Linked DNA regions of Homo sapiens: region 2 is linked to region 1. Evidence: fine-mapped expression QTL. A gene starts in region 1. The other region holds a variant in brackets. All regions are shown on one strand. Distances are from middle to middle.

Region 1 (5,368 bases):
CATGCTATAACCCTCTGTGCCATTGGTCCCAGGACAAGGCACAGATACCACATCCCACATTGCTGTTGTAACTAAAAGGCAGCAGGCCAGGCTCCTGCAAAGATCCATCCACCCAGGGCACATCAGGAAAAAGGAAGGCTTTAATGCAAAGTCTTACAACAGCTTTGGGGAATTGTTACCGATTGAGGTCTCAGCCTTTTCCTGACTCATTTTCCAAAGGTTTTCAACTTCCCCAGCTGTGAAGTTTGACTTGCTAAACAAAGAAGATACTACAGCTTTTCCCCAGTGTGGCTCCTGTGGAAGCTCCCCCAACACACACAACATCACAGGTGTGGGTGGGCAGAGATAGAAAAAATTTTTTTTTCTAAATGTTTTTCTCTTAAGGAGCTAGGGATGACCTCATGAAAGTTTAGGGAATCTGTTCTTCCCCTCACTCCTTCCTCATTCCCATCCAACTCAGACATGCTTCTCTTCCTCTACCACACTGAGAATTGGCAGGGCTTTGGGTACGGGTGTAGCATTTGCCTGAGGATTAATATACCCCCATTTGAAAATCGTGGCAGCCACGCCCTGTTTGGGGTCTTGCTCTCTGTTGTACCTGGGACCAATTCCCTTGAGGTCAGGAGGAATCCATTCCCTTGGGCAGCCAGCCCTCTCTTCCATCCCCTCATATCCTTCAGGGGTGCATTACCTCTCCTGGGGCAGAATCTCCCCACCAACCCATCCTGCTCACACCACAATGGGCGTATCAGAGAAGACCGAGCTGACTGATTCTGGATCCGACATCCTCCGTTGGCCCTTGCCTGTGGCCTCAGGCACTGGCAGGGTGTTGCCTGGCTTGAGCTTGCCGTTTTGACCCTGCCCAGGTCCAGCAGGTTCCAGGAAAGCCACCCGCCGGTCAAAACCATCATCTTTGTCCCCACCAGCCATAGGATCATGGTTGGGTGTGGTACTAAGCATGGAAGAGCTGAGGCTGTCTCCTTGATGGCTGGAAGGCTTCTCTACACCCCGGCACCAGCAGCGGCAAGGGGTGAGGTATAGGTATATGAGGACCAGGACCACACTAAGGATACAGCCCACTAGGGTGGTATAGGCTGTGTTGAGGGTGTCATGGTGTCCGTGCAAGGTGAAATTGTGCACTTTCAATTCCACAGACAGTGTCTCATTGAAAGTCTCTCCCATGGCATAGCAGGTATACACACCACCGTCCTCGACCTGCACCTGCTGGAAAAGAAGACTGCCATCCTTAGACACACTCACTGTGCCATTGGTCACCTCATCTAGCACCCGTTCATTACTTGGTGTCACCCACACCTTGGTCATCCCTTGCTGCTTGGTGTCACACTTGATGATCAAGGTGTCACCCAGGTGGGCCTCCCAGGCACGCTCCTTGTACTCGCCACAGTTGAGGAAACTCAGGTTGAAGACATTGTGCAGCTTCTTGGAGTTCATGCAGTACAGATCCTCTTGAAAGTCCATCACGGAGCTCAGCTGCCGATACTGCCAGTGTGAAAACAGCTGGTAGAGCTCACAGTCGCAGTTCAGGGGGTTGTTATGTAGGTACAGCCCATTCTTGATCCAGGCCGGCAGCTTCTGCAGGTCAGGCAATGGCAAGTTCTTCAGCTTGTTAGAAGAGAGATCCAGGAGCGTTAGTTTGGGTAGCTTGGCTCCTTCCTTGACCAGTTCCAGAGGGAAGCGAGAGATCTGGTTCTGGCTCAAGTAGAGTTTCTGCAGCTGGGCCATGTCATCGAAGGCGCACCGGTCCACCGCCATGATGTGGTTATTGTAGAGCAGCAGCACCTCCAGTACTTGCAGGTCACTGAACAGGAACTCATCCAGTGTACGCAGCTGGTTGGAGGAGAGGTCCAGGTAGCGCAGGTTGGGTACCGGGGAAAAGGCCTCAGAGGAGATGAAGTTCAGGTGGTTGTGGCTCAGCAGCAGGGAGTGCAGTTGGGTCAGGCGCGTGGGGGTCCACTCGGCCCGCAGGCGGCTCAGGTTGTTGTGACTGAGGTCCAGTAGTGCTGTGTAACTGGGCAAGGAATGGGGCACATTGGGCAGCTGCTGCTTGGAGCAGCTGAGGATGTTGCTGGCGCACAAGCAGGCGGCAGGACAGCTAACCACGGCTCGGCCAGCTCTGGCCACCTCAAAAAGCAGCAGGGACAAGGACGGCAGCAGGAGCCAGAGGCCTCTCGGGTCACGGTGGGGGTGCATAGTGTCACTGGAGTGGGCGAGGAAGGCCACAAGGAAGATCTGGGAGGAGGTCACCCGGGCATGTTCTGGTGGGGTACGGAAGGGTCACTTGAGAGAAAGAGGATGGGTTTGTGGTCACCAAGGACTCCAGAGGGAAGGACACCCTCTCCCACTTCCCCTCCCACCCTTACCTCCACCCCCTTTGGGCTAGGAGAGAGAGATGCTGGGTAGTTTCCAGGCACTGTGCAGGCAGTGGGCTGTAAATATCGGCCGAAGAGGAGGTGGCCCGAGGGCCTACTGGGCTGGGGTCACAGGGGTGCAGGCTGCAGGTATGCACAGGATGGCAGGGACTGCTGGGAGTCACAGGGATGGCACGGGCAGGGTTTGGAGGTGGGGTCGGTGTGCCTTTTGGGAGGAGCTGAGGGAAGGTCAACAGGGCACCGGGCTGGGTAGGACGCGTCCGGTCGGGGTTGAGGGTCCCCGGGGCCTGTAGGGGCGGGCTCCCCCCGGGGCCTCCGGTCACTGCACCTGCTCGGCGAGGACGTGTCTCAGCCCATGGCCGGTCTGGGAGCTCCGTCGCGGCCTCTCCCGGCGGCGCCTCACCGGCCGGCCTGTCACTGCGCCCACCTTACGCAGGGGCCCGCGCCCGGCACCGTCGCCTCCCGGGGACTTGCGGGGCCCCGCTCCGCTCACCCTGCCACCGCCTCGACCGCTGAGCCCGCCGGAGCCCACCGACCGCGGTCGCTGCCTCCAGGTCCGCAGGCCTGGCGCGGATCGGTGCGGGGAGCCGGAGGCGCAGCGATCCCAGCGGAGGGAGCGGCGTGGGGGCAGCGAGCACCGCGCGCGCGCCCGTCGCCGCCGCCGGAGCCTCGGGGCGCGTGCGCGCGGCGGGGGCGGGGCGCACGTGCGTGTGTTTGTGTCGGAGCCGGCCGGGCGGACGCGCGCGGGGTCGTTCCCTCAACCAGCGAGCTCCGGACGCTGAGCTAAAGACGAAAATTGGCAGGAAGAGCGGCACTGGCCCCTTAGGCTCCGCTATAACTTCCTCCATCCCCCATTCCCCCATCTCCCAGCACCCTTCTCGCTACACAGACCGGCTCTCAGGAAAAGTCTAACTAAAGTGAATTCGCTGCACCTACTCGGGCAAGAGGCGTCACATGTCTTTTAATTTCGCAAATTGAAGAAATCTGGCTCAGCTCCCGCCTGCCAATGTTGGCGGGAAATTCATTAGTCACATTCTGAGGTTCCCCCTCCCTTCTCTCTGTGGCTGTGGGGTCTCAAAAATTGGGGGAGGGGTTCCCCCCACCCCACCCCCGTCTTGATGCTACTAGTTCATGACCCTTGAGGTACCACTGAAGGGCACAGCTCCTTAGCCTGCAAGCCAGCTGCGCAGGAGTGAGGGGAAAGGGGGTGTTTGGTGAGCCCAGGCCCCAGAACACCCCTTTACAGACACCTCATGCACCTCTCCCCACTCCACCTGCTACACACACACACACACACACACACACACACACACACACACACACGGACTGCATACAAGCCAGGGACAATTTCCATTCCTGGAAACTCCGAAACCCTTCCCAGCCCGGAGGAAGTCATTCAGCCCTTAGGTCTGGCCACTTGCCTTCTTCCTAAACCAGTGCCAGCTCCCCACTCCCCTTATGGAGCAATTGCAACATAGTTTCTCTGTTACCTAATCCTCAAGATGAAGGCCAGTGGTGGAGGTGGAGGGGTTTCTTCTTTAGGGTGGCCCCTGAAACAACAAGAAGCTGTTACTAGTGTATGTTGTTTGGGTTTGGGGGTGAGGAAAGAGAGAGATGCAGGAAGAGCCTAGACCTTATCATTCAAGATGTTAGCTGTTCTTGAGATGGTGGACCATAAGAAATTACCTTTTTATTTGTTCCAGTCTCTTATAACAGCAAGATCAAGACTGAAATTAATGTCTCAGTAGATTAGCTTGCTAAGAGTTTTAAAAAGAATTTATATCTGTCACATGTTTTACCATGAATTTTAGTGAATATATTATCTCTTCAAGGAGTATTAGCGTGTTAATCTTATGCATAGTGTGAAAAGGTCTTTCTGCAAGGTGCAGTGGCTCACACCTGTAATCCCAGCACTTTGGGAGGCTGCGGCAGGAGGATTGCTTGAACCCAGGAGTTCGAGAGCAGCCTGGGCAACATGGTGAGACTCTGTCTCTTAAAAAAAAAAAAGGCATGGTGGCACGCACCTGTGGTGCCCACTACTTGAGAGGCTGAGGTCGGAGGATCACTTGAGCCCTGGAGGTCAAGGCTGCAGTGAGCCATGTTTGTGTCACTGCATTCCAGCCTGGGTGACAGAGCAAGATCCTGTCTCAAAAAAAAAAAAAAAAAAGAAAGAAAGAAAGAAAGAAAGAAAGAAAGAAAGAAAGAAAGAAAGAAAGAAAAAAGAGAAAGATGTTCTGTTCTGTTCATTTCAGGCATCATTGAAAAGATGAGGAGGGTAATCTTTTTGGAGGACAAGGTGTGAAGAATCTTGAAATCACATTGCATCAGTTATCTATTGCTGCATAATCACATTACCCCAAAACTTAGTGACTTCCTACAGCAATATACATTTATTGCCTTTCACAGTGTCTGTTGGTCAGATTCAAGAGCAGTCTGGTGGACAGTTCTGGCTTGGCAGTTTCTCATGCAGTTATGCGTTAGATGGAGCTACAGTCATTAGAAGGCTTCACTGGGGCCATAGAGGCTCACTTAAATTCATGTGGCTGGCTGTTGGCAGGAAACCTCTATTCTTATCCATAAAGGTCTCTCCACAAGACAGCTTGAGTTTCCTCACAACACGGTAGCTGACTTCCCTCAGAGCAAGAGATGCAAGAGACAGCAAGACAGAAGTCACAGTGATCTGGCTCTTTGAAGTGATGGATATCACCTCCACTTTGGTCACATATGCAATTCCTGATTCAATATGGAAGAACTACACAAGGGCACAAATACCAGGAAGAGAGGATCATTGGGACCATCTTGGAGGCTGGCTATCACACACATCATCTCTGAAGTTACATCTATTTTTTAATTTTGAGAATTTTCAAACATACACAAAAGTGAATAGTACAATGAACTCCCATATACCCATCACCCATTTCAATAATTATTAAAGAAATGTCATCATTTTATTTTGTACAAATATTCCTGAGAAACAT
Region 2 (5,346 bases), 400 kb after region 1:
AACAAGTCTGTTGGTTTATCTTTCTCAGGTTACTTCCTCTAACCTTTTATCAGTCTTAAGAACTGTGGTGTCAACATGTTATCTGAAATCATTATTGTACAGTGACCATGTCATTGTTGTATCCCCAGGGCCCAGCACGGTGCCTAGCATCTGGTAGCACATATTTGTCAAAAGAACAAAGTATTCTCTAATGGCATCATTCAACTCAGCCATCATTAACTTGGTACCTATTATGTGCTAGGTACCATTGATCCAGAGGTGACTGAGCATGGGTGCCACCTGGAAGAAGTCTCGGTCTAGGGTGGGGACAGAATGTAACCATCGGTACCACCTTAAACACTTCGAAAAGTACTGTGGAGAATGAATGGATGGCAAATGACTTATCAGAGCCAGCATTGAGGAATGAGCCAAGTCCAATGGGAACACAGGAAAAGGACCCTTTGCTCTGCCAGGAGAGTCACAGAAGGCTTTGCTGGTGGAGGATGAGATGCAATTTCAGCCTGAAATGATGAGGAGTTTGTCTTCAGCCATGTGGAGAAAGGAGCATTCCAGGCAGAGGGACCAGTCTGAGCAAAGGCATTCGGGTGTAAAATTATTGCCTAGGATTGGAGTGAAGGATATGTAGCGCTACTGACAAGAGACTCCTCTTCAAGAGCAGGCCACATATCCTTTATTTCCCAGGGGGTGGAAACGGGCAACCTCACAGAGGAATTGAATCATAATGAATTGAAGAAAGAAAAATCTCCTGAAGTTGGCATTATAATTAATAGGCTTAGGCTCATCCTACTAGTCCTCACTTAGACTCATTCTCATGTAGAAACAAAACGTGATTAATCACCTCAGTAAGTGCAATTTCCAAAAACATCCAGGGAAATCTAGGGTCCAGGTGCAGGACCTTTCCAATCTGAGTTGGATTTTGCCTCCAGGAGAGAGCATGGGTACCAGCCAGCATTTTCATCATCTAAGGGTCAGGTGCCTTGAAGTGTCTGCTGGCACCCAGGGAAGAGCCCCCCAGCTTGCTGTCACAGGACACAGCTGCTCCCTTCCTGGCCAGGTAGCTGGCCTCCCTCCCAGAATGGGACTTGAAGCTGGCCGGGCTGCTTGGGGGCTGCAGAGGAAGAAGGGGGCTGCCGGCAAACCTGCTGACTCAGGCTCCACGAGGGAGCAAGTAACACTGGACTCCTTTCGGCACTCCGAGAATGGGGTGGGGGCGTCTTCAAAGGATTTCCCTCCCTTCCCAGTGCTTGTCCCTGCTCTCGGTCCGTTTTCTGCTAAGATTTGGGGATTTTCAGGCCTGGAGGGAAAGTCCCTTGGGACGATCATAGAGCGCTAGCACTGAATCAGCCTGGAGAGCGCGGAAGGAAAGGGTCGGTCCGCAGAGGGCGCGGGGAAGGCAGGGTGGGGACGCGGTGGAGCCCGCGCTCGTTTGCTGAAGGCTTGGAAGTGCAGCGCAGAAGACAGAGGGTGACTAGGAAGACGCGCGAGCGGGGCTGGCCGGCCGGCGGGTGGGGGAGGGGAGGCGGGGGAAGGCGGCTGAGTGGGCCTCTGGAGTGTGTGTGTCTGTGTCAGTGTGTGTGTGTGTGTGTGTATGTGTGTGTCTGGCGCCTGGCCAGGGTGATTTCCCATAAACCACATGCCCCCCAGTCCTCTCTTAAAAGGCTGTGCCGAGGGCTGGCCAGTGAGGCTCGGCCCGGGGAAAGTGAAAGTTTGCCTGGGTCCTCTCGGCGCCAGAGCCGCTCTCCGCATCCCAGGACAGCGGTGCGGCCCTCGGCCGGGGCGCCCACTCCGCAGCAGCCAGCGAGCGAGCGAGCGAGCGAGGGCGGCCGACGCGCCCGGCCGGGACCCAGCTGCCCGTATGACCGCGCCGGGCGCCGCCGGGCGCTGCCCTCCCACGGTAAGCGACGGCCGCGGCGCTGGGCCCGGGACGGGCTGGGGCGGGGGCTCGGCGGCCAGGCGGCCGGGAGCGGCCCCTCGGAGCCGACAGCCTGGGCGCGCCGGCTGCACTGGCCCGGCGTTCCCGCCGCGGACGAACCGCCTTTGCGCACGGACTGGGCCCTGGCGCCAGGGCGGAGGCCGGTGGCGGCCCTGCAGCTGCACCGGGACTGCCAGGCTTCCCTGGGAAACGGAGGGCTGCTCACCCCATTGCACGGAGGGGAACACTGAGCCACCTGCAGGCAGGAGCCCCCGCTCAGCCAGGGTGCCCTGCCTCTCTCCCTACCCGCCACCACCAAGGCACGGGCGGAGTGGCTGTGCGCTGAGTGTGTGCCCTCCCCGGTGGGCACCTTCCTCATCGGCCACACACGTGCTTCCAAGGCCCTGCTGAGGAGTGGGCGCTTCTGGGCAGGGAAAGTTCAGGGGGTCAACCAGCTTATAGAACGCCAGGGACTTGCTGGCAGAGGGACGGAGAGGGGCAAGCCACTGCTTGTTCCAGCCCACAGGCAGGAGCTACGGAGGACTTGGGTGGCTGTTTGGGGGGTGGGGTGGGGGACGGCAACAGCCGGCAAACAGCCCCCCACCCCCGGGGCTGCTTGGGGCTAGCTCAGAATCTCTTTTTCTTGCAAATTCTGGTTTCATCGGTTGGGGAGATTCTGGGCTTTGTGGTGGTTTATGGTGG[T/G]TTGCAGTGCTTGAGGAAAATGGAAAGAGGGTTTGGTGTTGCAGAGCTGTGTCCAGGGGCAGGGTCTGCTCCTGACTGCGTAAGGGACGCCCTGCCCCAACTGTGGCGGTAGCAGATGCAGCCATAGAAAGTGAGGGTGGCACTGTTCATGACCAGTCAGTGGGCTCATAATAGATTTGCTTCTGAGGAGTCCTGGAAGAAAATGAGAGGGGAAACCTGGGGGGAAAAGAGCAGAAAATTATTTGGGGGTAGAGGAGAGCGGGCTGCAGGTGAGGTGAGAGAGAAAGGGAAGAGTGGGTCCACAGAAAGAAAGTGCCTCACTGAGAGAGAGGAGATAGAGTTGAGAGGGGAAGGGAGAAGGGTTAGCCATAGGCAGAAAGCAAAGCTTCGGGGCTGAAGGGGAGACCATGAGGAAAGAAGAGAAAGACAAGGGGGCTGTGTTTAGACAGGGGAAGTCCAAGGGCCCGGTTCTGCCAGGTCTCTCCAGAGGCCTTGTTGAGGGGGAAGATGAAATGGAATAGGATAGGTGGCAGAGGAGGCTGGACAGCTGGACTGAGGTGTCCTAGCATCTCTGAGCCTGCAGCAGAGATTCCTTCTGAGGGCTGCTCCCCAGGCAGAAGCCAGGGCTAGGGGTGGGAGGAAGAGGCAGTCAGAGGAGAGCCTGCCCAGCCAGATGCAAGCCAGAGTGTTAACCCCCCACTGTCTGTCCAGATCCTCCTGAGGCAGAATGGAGGCCCCAGGTCCAGGGGTATCCCCTTTGGCCAGCTTCGAAGTCAGCCTCTCATGTAGTGGCTGCACTTTCCCCACACTGATGCCTCAAATGTCATCAAAGCCAGACAGCCCTTGGGGTTAAGCATTGCTCCCACCTTGCTCTCCTCCAGGGAGGTTGTCTTCCTGAGCGGTCCCTTTCATCCATACCATTCACTCCAGACCTTGAGTGGCAGCCAGTCTGGGGTAGATACACCGTCTAGTGGCCCAGTTTCCTCCAATCATTCCTGAACCTAAGGTTTCTGAGTACCTGGGCCATTATTCCCACCCAGGGCAACCTCCCCAACAGAGCCTGAAGTCCCCCCAGCCCCCGTGACTGCCGTCCCCCTCTTCCACACTTTCCCTCCCTCAGATCAGCCAGGATCCTCACAGTCCCTGTGCTGAGTGGTATGAAACTATCCTTTGGCTCTTCCTTCCATGGCTCCCACCCCTCTCCTGCCATCACCTTCTCCCCATCTTTCAAGGCCTCACTGAGGTCCCTGCTCTCTGCAGTCTCCCTGGTCACCCAGCCAGAGCTGCCTTCTCCTCCCCAGAAGAGCTGGCAAGCATTTGGGCTTTTGGTGATATGTAGATTAGCACATTGTTGTGGGCTGTTTCATAGCCTCGTTGTGTTTTTCCAGTGAGCAACTTATTTGCAGTATTTGTCTCAACATCTGGATTATTGAGGCAAAACCCAGAGTCCAGGATAGTGTCAACCTTCACCCTACCCTGCCAGCATTTCCCTGAATCTGGGGGCATCAGCCGCCAGGAGGCTTGGGAGCTCTCAGGAGGTGACCTCAAGCTGGAGAAAGAAAGCCCAAGAGTCTGTCTGCTTTTGGCTGAAGAAGGAGAGACCTAGGGCCAGGGGTAGGGATGAGGAGACCCCAGTGAAGAGAAGGAAGAGAGGAAGGAAGGGGAAAGACAGGGCATCAGGAGCCAGTCCCATCACTCTGGGGCTGAGCAACTACTGGGCCAGGTAGGTGCTGGGAGAGAAGAGGGGTCTCAGAAAACTTCTCTGCCATGATAAGAGGTGGCTGGCTGGAGGCAAAGCCTGATGGTGCTCAAATAGGCAGGTGCCAGGCAAGGGATGGCCCATTACTGGCACTGGTGCCTCTGATTAATCAGCTGGGCTCCTTTTGAAACACACACCCAGGGCTCCAAGATGTCTCTGGCAAGGGATGAGTTCCAGTGAAACTGAGTTTGATCCCACAGTTTTTCCAGTGGCAGAGCCAGATCTGCATGGAACCAGGTGGGAGGAAATGCTGGGCCCAGGGGAGCTGTCTCTGGCTTGCCATCTGAAAGCCGGTGCATGAACATGAACTTGAGGGCAGTTCAAAAAGTGCTTGGCTCAGTGTTGATGTTGCAGAGACAGAAAAAAATGGGTAGATGCAAGTCCTGCTCTCGAGTTTCCTGTGTCATTAAAATTTAGGCTGGTAGGCACACCATCTGTGTCAGTATTAGTTCAATGTATAGTTAGGTTTGGCTGGCTTAATCTGGGAAGGCTTCTTGTAGAAGGTGACATCTGGGTTGTTTTCATGGGAGAACAAGGTTGTGCTGTGGCTGCTAGAAATCCTGGGAAAGCTGGATTTGAGGGATGCTGTATCCTGAGGTAAGGGGCAGAGCCTGTAGCATTGTAGATATGAGGCCTTTGTTTTTCTGCGTTGAGCAGGGCATGGGGATAACTGGGGAGAGTGAGACCTGGGGAGAAATGACACCCTCTCTGTCACAGACATGGCTGGGCTCCCTGCTGTTGTTGGTCTGTCTCCTGGCGAGCAGGAGTATCACCGAGGAGGTGTCGGAGTACTGTAGCCACATGATTGGGAGTGGACACCTGCAGTCTCTGCAGCGGCTGGTGAGTGTGTGGCCATGCTGTATTCTACCTTCTCCCCACTGGGGAAATGAAGGCAGGAGCCAGGGAGCAGGTCAAAGAGAGCAGTTGCAGGCAGGAAAATAGGGCAGTGCGGGACATTGCTTGTGGTTCCCAC

Evidence for each region. PIP is the estimated chance that this variant, and not a neighbour inherited with it, causes the effect.
Region 2: its variant is fine-mapped to the expression of AMIGO1 in putamen (GTEx, PIP 0.97).

What each region holds. Positions count from the first base shown.
Region 1 is chr1:109,506,702-109,512,069 of GRCh38, forward strand. It overlaps AMIGO1 (adhesion molecule with Ig like domain 1), which reads right to left and starts at 3,026. Exons shown (of 2, transcript NM_020703.4): 1 at 2,719-3,026; 2 at 1-2,298. The coding sequence starts at 2,211. The coding sequence ends at 730. It overlaps LOC105378893 (a long non-coding RNA gene), which reads right to left. Exons shown (of 3, transcript XR_001738179.2): 3 at 3,901-3,940. RefSeq lists silencers at 2,630-2,689, 2,700-2,849, 2,910-3,029.
Region 2 is chr1:109,909,169-109,914,514 of GRCh38, forward strand. CSF1 (colony stimulating factor 1) reads left to right here and starts at 1,681. Exons shown (of 9, transcript NM_000757.6): 1 at 1,681-1,894; 2 at 5,091-5,213. The coding sequence starts at 1,856. RefSeq lists silencers at 1,775-1,944, 1,995-2,104 and enhancers at 1,890-2,390, 2,391-2,891, 2,968-3,067. The variant T/G (reference allele first, on the strand shown) is at 2,615.